Regions from separate parts of the Homo sapiens genome. Here region 1 is linked to region 2. The links come from fine-mapping of genetic effects on gene expression. A gene starts in region 2. The other region holds a variant in brackets. All regions are shown on one strand. Distances are between the middles of the regions.

Region 1 (5,382 bases), 510 kb before region 2:
AGAATCCGCTTTCTTTAACATGCATGTCTTTAAATAACTTTGTGCTAAATGGTGTTTTCCATATCCAATCCACTCTCCAGTGTGGGTATATGAAGTGGGGAGTCATTTAAGTAGTTGGATAGAGGCATGGTATGATCATAAGACTCATTGTGGGCTGGTGGACACCGAGACTGGCAGTAGGGTTGCTGGGCAGTTACTGTCGTGACCCAGGTGAGCTCATACGTGTCTCTGGGATCCCACCTAGGACTATGTCCTTGCTCTGCTGCTTATTATCCCTGAGACTTTAGGCAAGTTACTTGTTTCTTCTCTCTCTAGCTTGGTTTCCTCCTCTATAAAATAGAGAAGTGAAAATAGTCCAGGGCTATCTCATTTTATATAAGGATTGTGTTCCTGGAGACCCAGCATAATTCAAACAAAATGTACATATTTAAATCAAGAGTAATTTACCTATAAGAATAAGCATATACTGGGTTTTATGTTTATTCTGATGGGTAAAGTAGGCTTTACATTATTTTTATACCTTTAACTTTGTACCTTTCTGTGTGATTGAAACTTTCCAAACTTACGCATGTGTTTTATATAAAATACCAATGAGAATTATTTGGCTGTTAAAAGTCTTTTTTTAAACAGAAAATTATCTCTATCTCTGTATTTTTAAGTACTTTAAAACAATTTTGAAAATGTGTTTATTACAATGGACTCTTTCTAAATATCTTCTTTACCCTTCAAAAAAAGATCACTCAGGCCAGATGGTCAGTTTCCCTCTGTGCTTTATAAGCCCTTTGCAGAATCCGCTCCCGGGGCTGTGGGATGAGAGTTTAGGAAGGGGGCTGGGGGTGGGTTGGCAGTGAGGGACAGAGCATCCAGCAGTGAAATAGTTAACCTGCCTGCCACTGAAGTGGAGAGACCCAGCTTGAGGCAATCCTGTGTGAGGCAGCAATAAATTCAAGCCAGGTTTTCAGAGTGGAAACTGAAGCTAGCCTCTTTAATCAGATATTTCAGAGTCACTCAGCATAAAACCCAAGACTAACGAATTAGTACTTGGAACTGTTTTATAGCTATGTCATGAAATGTAGCTGAGATTCTCAGTGGACTTGGATACACCTTATGTGGTCACTGTCACTTAGGGACCGTAAGGCTGAAGGTACTTTCTTCCCAAGTCTTGCCCCATCCAAACCTCCAAAGCATAAGATGCACAGCACCCACTGAGCTGAGAGCCCCCTGCCCTGTCTGCATGTTAGCTTCAGATAAGATGCAAAGACTAGGAACACAGTGAGGTTTTGCCGCTAGGTTGTCCCTACTTAAGAAAAGCATTGCCTGTGTCTCTATTAAAAATAAAATGAACCCTTCTGGTGGCAAAGTTCAATTAAATTTCAAGATATGGCTACAGTCAGGTGGAGGAAAGACTTCTACTCTTGAAGGAGGTAATAATTGGGCAGCTAAGGGTTGGACGATCTTCAAGGCTCTGGTGCAAATGTCTCTTGCTTGATTGTTTTGGCAAACCTCCAGTTATTGGAAGTATCCCTGGCTGTATGGGCTGGGGGCTATCATCTTTTGTGGCCCTTAAACTATGCTGTCAGAACGTGGGAACTAGATTACTTCATTCTGCTCCTGGGAAAGGGAACAGACTTGTGGGATTTAAAATGAATACGTTAAATTTGTTGATTATCAAAGGGAAAAATAGAGAAAAATAAATAAACTCTTACAAGATCTTGGCTGAAGTACAGGGGCCAAAGTTTAAATCCTTGCTCTCAACCATGTTAGGATTTTGTAAAAGACCTTCAATTTTCCCTCCCAATTCACTCAGGTGGGAGGAGGGATGTACCCTTTGGAGGCCCCTGTTTCCCCTCAGGGTTCTTTTTTAATGTAAATGGAATGGTAAGAAGAGGGATAGTAACTGTACTCCCGTGATGCATGAAAAAGGGCAGCAGCCTTATGATGAATTTTTCCTTTTTTTTAAAGAAAAAAAATACAGATATATCTATGTATCTTAGTAAAAAATATTTTTAAAAGTGTGATAAGATGGATATTGTCACATGCAGGTAAGAGGGTAAAGTGGTACTTTTGGGGATGGAAGTTTAGCAAAATATATCAGATACTCTAACAAGATTGAGACTCCATTTCTCTTTTAGGAATTTATCCAAAGGAAATAATCCAAAAAGTGCACAATTATCAATATGCTGTCATTGCATTGTTTACAGTAGTGAAAATCTCAACCTCAATGTTGATCATATGGGAAATAATTGGTTATATTAATGTTGGTTCAGCCCCACAGTGGTATCATCCTTGGCAATTAAAAATAAATGACAACACCACCAAAGGCACAATCCATGAAAGAAATAATTGATAAGCCAGACTTCATTAAAATTAAAAACTTCTGCTCTGTGAAAGACATAGTCAAGAGAATGAGAAGACAAGCCATAGACTGGGAGAATATATTTGCAAAAGGCAGTCTGATAAAGGACTGCTATCCAAAAGAAAAGTATAAAAAAAACTCAACACCAAAATATGAAAATAACCTGATTAGAAAATAAGCCAAAGATCTCAACAGACACCTCACCACATAAGATATACAGATGGCAAATAAGCATATGAAAAGAAGTTCCACATCACTGTCATTAGGGAAATGCAAATCAAAACAATGAGATACCATTACATACCTATTAGAATGACCAAAGCCCAGAACACTGACAACACTAAATGCTGACAAGGATGGGAAGCAACAGGAGCTCTCATTGATTGCTGGTGTGGGTGCAAAATATAACAGTATGGCCATTTGGGAAGACGGTTTGCCAGTTTCTTACAAAACTAAAAATATGCTTACCATACAGCCCAGCAACTGAGCTCCTTGGTAGCTACCCAAAGGAGCTGAAAATTGTACAAAAACCTACACACAGATGTTAATAGCAGCTTTATTCAGAATTGCCAAAAACTTGGAAACAGGATATCTTTCCATAGGTGAATAGATAAATAAACGGTGGTATGTCCATGCAATGGAATATTATTCAGCGTTAAAAGTAAATGAGCTGTCAAGCCATGAGGAAACTTAAATGCATATTACTAAGTGAAAGAAGTGAGTTGTAAAGTCTATATAGTGTATGATTCCAACTCTATGACATTCCGGAAAAGGCAAAACT[G/A]TGAAGACAGTAAAAAGACCAATGGTTGCCAGGGTTTAGCGAGGAGGGAGAGGTGAATAGGCAGAGTACAGAGGGGTTTTAGGGCAGTGAAAGTACTCTGAATGATACTATAATAGTGGATACCTGTCATTAATACATTTGTTCTGACCCACAGAATGTACAACACCAAGAGTGAACCCTAATGTAAACCATGGACTTTGAGTGATTATGATGTGTCAACATTGGCTGACAGTTGTAACAAATGTACCACGCTGGTGGGGGATGTTGATAATGGAGGAGGCTCTGCATGTGGGGGTGCATGGAGTATATTGGAAATCTCTGTACCTTCCTCTCAATTTTGCTGTAAACCTAAAACTGCTTGAAAAAAAAAAAAGGCTTTAATTTCTTTTAAAGTCTTCATCTCTTACTATGATACCCTGAGCATTTCCCCCAATGTCTTTAAGGGAAAAGAAGCTGGAAATAAAAGGGTAAATGTGTGGTAATGACAGCTTTGTGAAAGTATACACATAGAAGGGGAGAAATGCAGCAAAGTCATGTCTAGGTGGTAGGGTTATGGTTAAAATAATTATTTTCTTTTACATTTTTTCCAAGGTTTTCAAGATTGAACCTATACCATTTTTATAATAAGAAAAAAAAATGTACTCCCCAGACAACAATGGATGTGAAGCAATTGCCAGTCTTCAGCCTGTGAGACAAAGGGGGACTAAGAGCATGTTTACTTGCTTGGAAGGTAGGACTTTTAACCAATGTTTCTTTCACCTGCCAAAGGCTGAGAAGCCAAGAAGATACTGGAGGTAGAGCAAAGTGTGTGCCTTTGTGTTTTTGCTCTTGTTTGCTTGGGGAGCAATGTGCCTTTGTGGCCTCTTCAGGTGGGAGAAGAGGTAGAGGAAGAGCTCCTCCAGTTTTTAATCCCCTCATCTAATCACCAGACCTTTCTTGTGGTTTTCCTGGGACTCTTTTTACTCAATGGATGGATTGACACTGTTTGTGTGTGTATGTTGTACTTGGATTATGCCTTAATGTGTCACGATGATGACAAAAGGGTTTGCAACAGCAGGCAGGCAAATGTCCCTGCTTTTAATAGAAAGCACATTCCAGCACTTTATATTATCTGTAACACATAGAGCTGCTTAGAACAAAGCATTGCCCCTAAGACATGGTCCCCAAGAGTCTTTAATAAGTTCCAGACCTCTGTGAAGGTATTAATTAAATATTTTAAATAGAATGACTTTAGCTGGCTGGGGCATTTTTATGAGAGAAGGGAGTATATTTAAAACCAGGGCCGTTTCTGTAACAGGAGCTTGTTTTGAAGGAAATGTTCTTGGGTGGGGACTCTATGGGTACCAGGCTGTCAAATCTATGGGCCAACTTGATGTCAAAAACAGACATTCTGGATGTTTCAAACAATATTTGAATTGGGTCCTTGCTGCAGAATTTGGACATAATTCTGAAGCATGATTTTAACACAAAGGGGAGAATAGTAAGAGTCTATGGGTATACCAGGCACTGTTAGAGGTAGTTTCTCACAATAGTTCCATGAGAAGGGCTTTGACAAGGCCATTTTATAGAAAACAAACAAACAAAACCTAAGTGACTATTTTTCAAAGTCACAAAGTTTGATGGAGGAGCTCAATTAAAGTCTGTCCAATAAACTCAAAGTCTGTCCAATAACTAAAAGATATAATTGGATTGTTTTTAACACAAAGGATAAATGCTCAAGGGGATAGATACCCCATTTTCCAAGATGTAATTACCATACATGGCATGCCTGTATCAAAACACTTCATGTACCCCATAAATACATATATACCTACTATGTATCCATAAAAATTTTAAAAAAGTCTGTCTGCCCATCTATCCAACCATCATCTGTGTATTTACATATGCATTTTTCTACCTATCCATCTTCTATATTTCAGAATACTTTACTCTTTCTCAGGAAGTACTAGAAATAAAGATAAGCTTAAAAAGCAGATCCTGGTCCAATTGATAGACATTTCCTGAATTCAAAGTCATCAGAGTTATTGAATACTGTGTAGAGTCTAGAAGCACAGAGTTAGCTGATTTTTCTAGAAGGCAGCATGATGTAGTGAAAAGAGCAATGCACTTGGAATAAGAGGTCCAAGTTTGGATCCTGGCTCTGCCACTTATGGATATCTGTGACATCGAGCAAGTTTCTCCCTGAACGAGTTTCTTTGTCTCCAAAATTAGAATTGCATTTAGCATAGTGCCTAGTAGGTGACCA
Region 2 (5,382 bases):
CGTGATCAGTGAAATGTAAGTGAAGCATTGACAGAATCCCTTCCTAAATAAAAAGACAAAGCCTAGCAAGGAGGCCTTCTGCCTTTCACCCTTCACTCTTTCCCTTCTTCCTGCCTGGAACACAGATGTAATGCAAAAGAATAAACCATTTTGTAGCCATGAGGATAAAGCCATACATTAAGAAAGACAGATCAAAAGATCTGGGTTCCCAGATAGCATCTTGAAGCTATTTTATAAACCCTGGGCAGTCTGCTTTCAGACTTCTTTTTACCATGAGAAAAATAAATTCTTGTTTGGTTTAATCACCAAGAATGAATTTTTATTATGTGCAACCAAGTGCAAATCCCAGCCAATACAATCTATGGACTCATGAGGTCTTCATCTGGATCTCATTCCTCTTCTCACCGAATCAAGACTCAGGGTCATCTCTGAGCTGTAGGGGAAAAACCTGAAACCATAAAAATTCTAGAAGATAACATAAGAAAAACTCTTCTAGACATTGTGATATTCCCCTCCGCACCCCATGTAGCCAGAGGCACCTATTGCCTCAGGGAAGAATAGGATTGTTAAACTAGGAAAGTAGACAAAGGCAGGGTAAAAATAAAGCCTAATTGGTTACCCAGAGGTCCAATTTGTATAGAAAAGGCAAAATAAATGCACAATTGTTTTCCTTTTCCTAAAACAGTTTTGAAAATTATGAGCTGGTTCCCTCTGAACCATCAAGCAATCAATCTGTTCAGTTGTTTTTAAAATATTATCAATTAATAGATATAATCATGTTTGATGTGTTTTAAACAATTGCGATTATCTTTTTTTTTTTTTTTTTTGATGCTCAAATTAGCCCGTCTTTGGTCAGTGACAGCCTATTTGAATTGTCCCCTTCTTGACACAACCCTAGTGGTAGTTGATAGTTTTCTTGCTTTCTGAAAATATTTACAGATAAAATGATATGATGCTCTGGGATTTGCTTCAAAATGATGACATAGGAAAAAGGGGTATAGATGAAATATGACTGTCCATGAGTTCATAATTGTTCAAGCTGGTTATGGCCCCATGGAGATTCATTATACTACTTTCTTACATTTGTATATGTTTGAAATTTTCTAAATTAAAAGTTAAAGATAAAAAAATTCAGTCAGGCACCTATAGTCTGCAAGCACTTGGGAGTCTGAGGCTGGAGGATGGCTAGAGCCCAGGAATTCAAGACAAGCTTGGGCAACATAGCAAGATTCAGTCTCGAAAGGAGAAAGAAAAAGAAAAGTTGAGTCTTGAATGCCTGGCTTTGATTGGGGGGTGGGGGGAAGAAAAATATTTCTAAGTTCCCTAGGCTTCCCTTTACTTATTGATGAGTAGGCCCAGAGGTCTGACTACAGAGCTGTACTCTAAGTCAGAGGTCATGAGCTCTCAGGATATACCCATTACCCCCATTGTAAGGAGGGCATGAAGAAACCCTCTTGGATGGGGGAGAGAACAGAAGGATGGAGGGTAAGGAGAGGGGAAAATGTGCGAAAAGCTTTCAGAGCTTCACGAGTTGGGTACCTCTTGGCAGCTTTGCTGGTGGTCACAGGGTTGGGTAAAAGGGGTTCCCTCACTACCAATTTGTCTTACCACCGTCTTCCATTCTTTGGCCCAGATTCTAGTCTCTCATCCCCAACAAGCCTGATTCTATTTCTTGTGGTCAAGGGGATCTTGCTTTCCAGATAGGACAGGAAGGAGCACTGGGCTGGACATCCCGAGGCCAAAAGCCGAAGCCTGTCAGTGATTCAAAATGACACGGGGTTTTGGGTCTCACTTTCATCACCCATGAAATGAAAGGTCACCCTGCAAGACTGAAGCCCCTGCAGTGTCCCAAGCATCCAAATCCAACACTCAAGAAACCCTGGACCCCAACAGCCTGTCCTGCAGGCCTCCGTGCCTTTTCATTGAACGTCTTTTCCACCATTACACATCACATCGCCTCCTAAAGAAAAGCGCGACTGCTATCACTTTTTGCAGATAATTGGAGAGGCGGTGCCCAGCATAAGATGACCCCAAAGTTGACAGCACTTTCAGGCTTTGTGAATTAGGCGCGTCACCGACCTGTACGATTTCTCCTCTCTGCCCTTGCTCGCCTGCAAATCCTGACCCCCGTCCACACTGCGGAGAAATCTCCTAAGAGACGGCTGCCAGCGTCGCCTCTGCGCCCAGGAGGCGTGGAGCAAAGGACTCGGGAGCTGAGCGCGCTGCGGCCCCGCTCCCAGCGCACAGCGCACAGCCCAGAGGGAGGGGCCGGCGGGGGCCGGGCAGCGCCAGACTCGGAGCGCCGGGCTCACAGCGGCTCAGTCTCCTCCCGAACCCAGCCCGGCTGGCGAGAGCGGCAGCCAGTGCGAGCCAGAGCCCGGGCCTCAGAGCGGGTAGGCGGAGGGCCGGCGGACTGGAGCGGCGGGCCGCGCTCGGGGGCCCCGCCGTGTGCGCGTCCTCCCATCTTATCCTGGTAAGTGCGGGCGGCTGCGCCCCGCCTGCCGCTGTAGCCGCTGTGGCGGTCGTCCCCGCATCCCGGTTGCGCGCATCCCGTTGCTGCTCTGCAGGCTCACAGGTGGCTCTGCCGTGGATGTGGGCGCCCCAGGCCCCGCTAGGAGTTAGCCAACTCTCTGTGCTCCGGGGCGTGGATTTGGAGCCCCCGCCTCTCCTACCCTTGCTTTTGGCTTGGGATGGGGGGCGTGGGGCAGGGCCTGCCGTCGGGGGAGACGCGCAGAGGGGCGCTTCCATTCCCCAGCCACCTACAAACGACTCAGGGGGATGCGGGCCAAGCGCCTCACCAAATGCAACCCAGCTCCAAGCTCACAGGTGGGGCGTCTGTCCTTTAGATTTATTTTCCTATTAATCCACCAGGGAAAGTTTGGGACCACGCAAGGCAAAGTTGGGGCGCGGCTGGGGGCGAACATTCTCCTACGGAGGCAGCTCCCGGGGAGACGAGCGGTGGGTTTTCAGGGGGAGCGAGGATCGGGCTGGAGATGACTTTGCGCCCGGGGAGTTGAATCTGTCCCTGCTGGTCGCCCGGGCCGGGCATTTACACAATCCCCTGAGTGCTGTGAATCGCTTAATCGTTCCTGCTAAGCGTTGACGTTCGCAGCCACCTGGGAATCTCCGTGATGGGGTCGGGTTATCTCAGGAGTAGCAGCAACTCAGCGGGGTTGATTTGTGCTCTTGCTTTGCTCTGAAAACCTGAGCTCCAGCTAATCTCAGTATTTAAGTGGCGTGTGTTTAATTAGCTTATTTTACACCTGAGATTATCTCAGCGACTGCCTCCAAAATGAAATCGTTGATATGGAAAAGAATAGTCTTTTTAAAGAAAAACTAAAAAGAGAACTCTTCAGAATATCAGCTGTCAAGTCTGGCTATTTTACCCATCTCCTCCGTGGGATAGAGAAAGAAAACTCTGCTTTGGATATCTAACCTATTAAAGTCAGTGGTGGGGCTATTTTGGGCAGATTTTGTGGACAGAGGTATTGCTACAACTTGCGTATTGTTTATGAAATACACATGTGGTCTCTCGAAATAGCCTACTTGTTATTTCACTGCATTGGGAGTTCTTTGACTTACTAAGCTGCCTATTTTAAATATGACTAAAGGTTGTTTTTTTAAAAAAAATATTTAGCTGAAAACAATGTCTAGATGTTTAGGGAAGGCAGCTTGTGCATGTCACCAGAATTTTTTTTTGTAAACTTAAATTTGTAAAGGACTACTTTCCCGCATCTGATAAAGGAGAGACTTTTTATGAAAAATAAGATCTGATATCATTATGTGTGCAGAAAAAAGATCACTAAATTAAAGAATCACTCACTTTCCAAATGATAGGTTAAATCAGAAAAAGTTGCCTACAACTGAGAATTATGTAATTGGACCAAAAGTAAACAATGAATAATTGTTAGTTGCCAAGTACCTAGACAGTTCTGAAAGAAGTCTAGGTACCTTTATAGCACTGGAAGGTTATTACATGATTTAAGGTGAGATAATCTGATAGATTTTCACCTGTAAAATTTTTATTCTTACATCTGCCTTCTCTGCACCTAACATTGGATTTACCAAAATATTTATTTGGGTTTATACATACATCTTCATAAGTGCCACATCCCATACTAAGTGCTACATATGTTTTTACTCATCTTGAAAACAATCCTGGGTGGTAGGTACCGTAATTGTCCCCATTTTAAATGAGGAAACTGAGGCACAGAGAAGTTAAGTAACTTACCCAAGATCGCACAGCTGCAGGACAGGACTTTATCATATCTGCAAAGATCTTTATTAAAAAGACGTGATTTTATGATTTACTTATTCTCGTTTTTATTTTTATTTAAGCATAAATGATGAAAGTTTCCTGTGAAGCATAACAATCCCTGATTGTGAAAGTACCCCACAAGCATCGTTAACTATAAAGTAAGGAAAAGTATGAAAGAACCATCTGGTTGAGTCTAAAGTTGGAAGATCACCATATCCACCAGAAGACCCAGGATGGATCTGCAACAAAGCACCACCATCACTTCCCTAGAGAAATGGTGTTTGGATGAGTCACTGTCTGGCTGCAGAAGACATTATAGTGTCAAGAAAAAACTGAAGTTAATTCGAGTCTTAGGCCTTTTCATGGGTCTGGTAGCCATTAGCACTGTCTCATTTTCAATCAGTGCCTTTTCTGAGACAGATACACAGAGCACAGGAGAGGCCAGTGTTGTAAGTGGCCCTAGGGTAGCACAGGGTTACCATCAGAGAACTCTCTTAGATTTAAATGACAAGATTCTGGATTATACTCCACAGCCACCTCTTTCTAAGGAAGGCGAGTCTGAGAATAGTACAGATCACGCCCAAGGAGACTACCCGAAAGACATCTTTTCCCTTGAGGAGAGAAGAAAAGGTGCGATCATTCTGCATGTCATTGGAATGATCTACATGTTCATAGCCTTAGCCATTGTCTGTGATGAGTTCTTTGTTCCTTCTTTGACTGTCATCACTGAAAAACTGGGCATCTCTGATGATGTGGCTGGAGCCACCTTCATGGCTGCAGGAGGGTCAGCCCCAGAACTTTTCACATCTCTCATAGGGGTATTTATCGCTCACAGCAACGTTGGCATAGGCACAATTGTAGGTTCAGCAGTATTCAACATCCTCTTTGTTATTGGCATGTGTGCTCTGTTTTCTAGAGAAATCTTAAACCTGACATGGTGGCCGCTCTTTCGAGATGTGTCTTTCTACATTGTTGACTTGATCATGCTGATCATATTTTTCCTGGATAATGTCATCATGTGGTGGGAAAGCTTGCTTCTCTTAACAGCTTATTTTTGCTATGTGGTTTTCATGAAATTCAACGTCCAAGTAGAAAAATGGGTGAAGCAAATGATAAACCGCAAT

Alleles and levels. Positions count from the first base shown, and alleles are read on the strand shown. Sizes are in standard deviations (SD) of each study's normalised expression.
As copies of G replace A in region 1, the expression in regulatory T cells of the gene that starts at base 2,321 in region 2 goes down (large effect, 0.87 SD a copy in Schmiedel 2018).

What was found. PIP is the estimated chance that this variant, and not a neighbour inherited with it, causes the effect.
Region 1: its variant is the best candidate, but not a certain one, in a credible set for the expression of SLC24A2 in regulatory T cells (Schmiedel 2018, PIP 0.83).

What each region holds. Positions count from the first base shown.
Region 1 is chr9:20,299,711-20,305,092 of GRCh38, reverse strand. It overlaps a transcript of SLC24A2 not described here. Among named protein-coding and RNA genes, the nearest start is that of MIR4473, 110 kb to the left of the region's middle. RefSeq lists an enhancer at 2,349-3,026. The variant G/A (reference allele first, on the strand shown) is at 3,138.
Region 2 is chr9:19,785,976-19,791,357 of GRCh38, reverse strand. It overlaps SLC24A2 (solute carrier family 24 member 2), which reads left to right and starts at 2,321. Exons shown (of 11, transcript NM_020344.4): 1 at 2,321-2,473; 2 at 4,339-5,382. The coding sequence starts at 4,492. LOC124902128 (a long non-coding RNA gene) reads right to left here and starts at 2,199. Exons shown (of 2, transcript XR_007061432.1): 1 at 2,080-2,199; 2 at 298-433. RefSeq lists an enhancer at 2,758-3,405.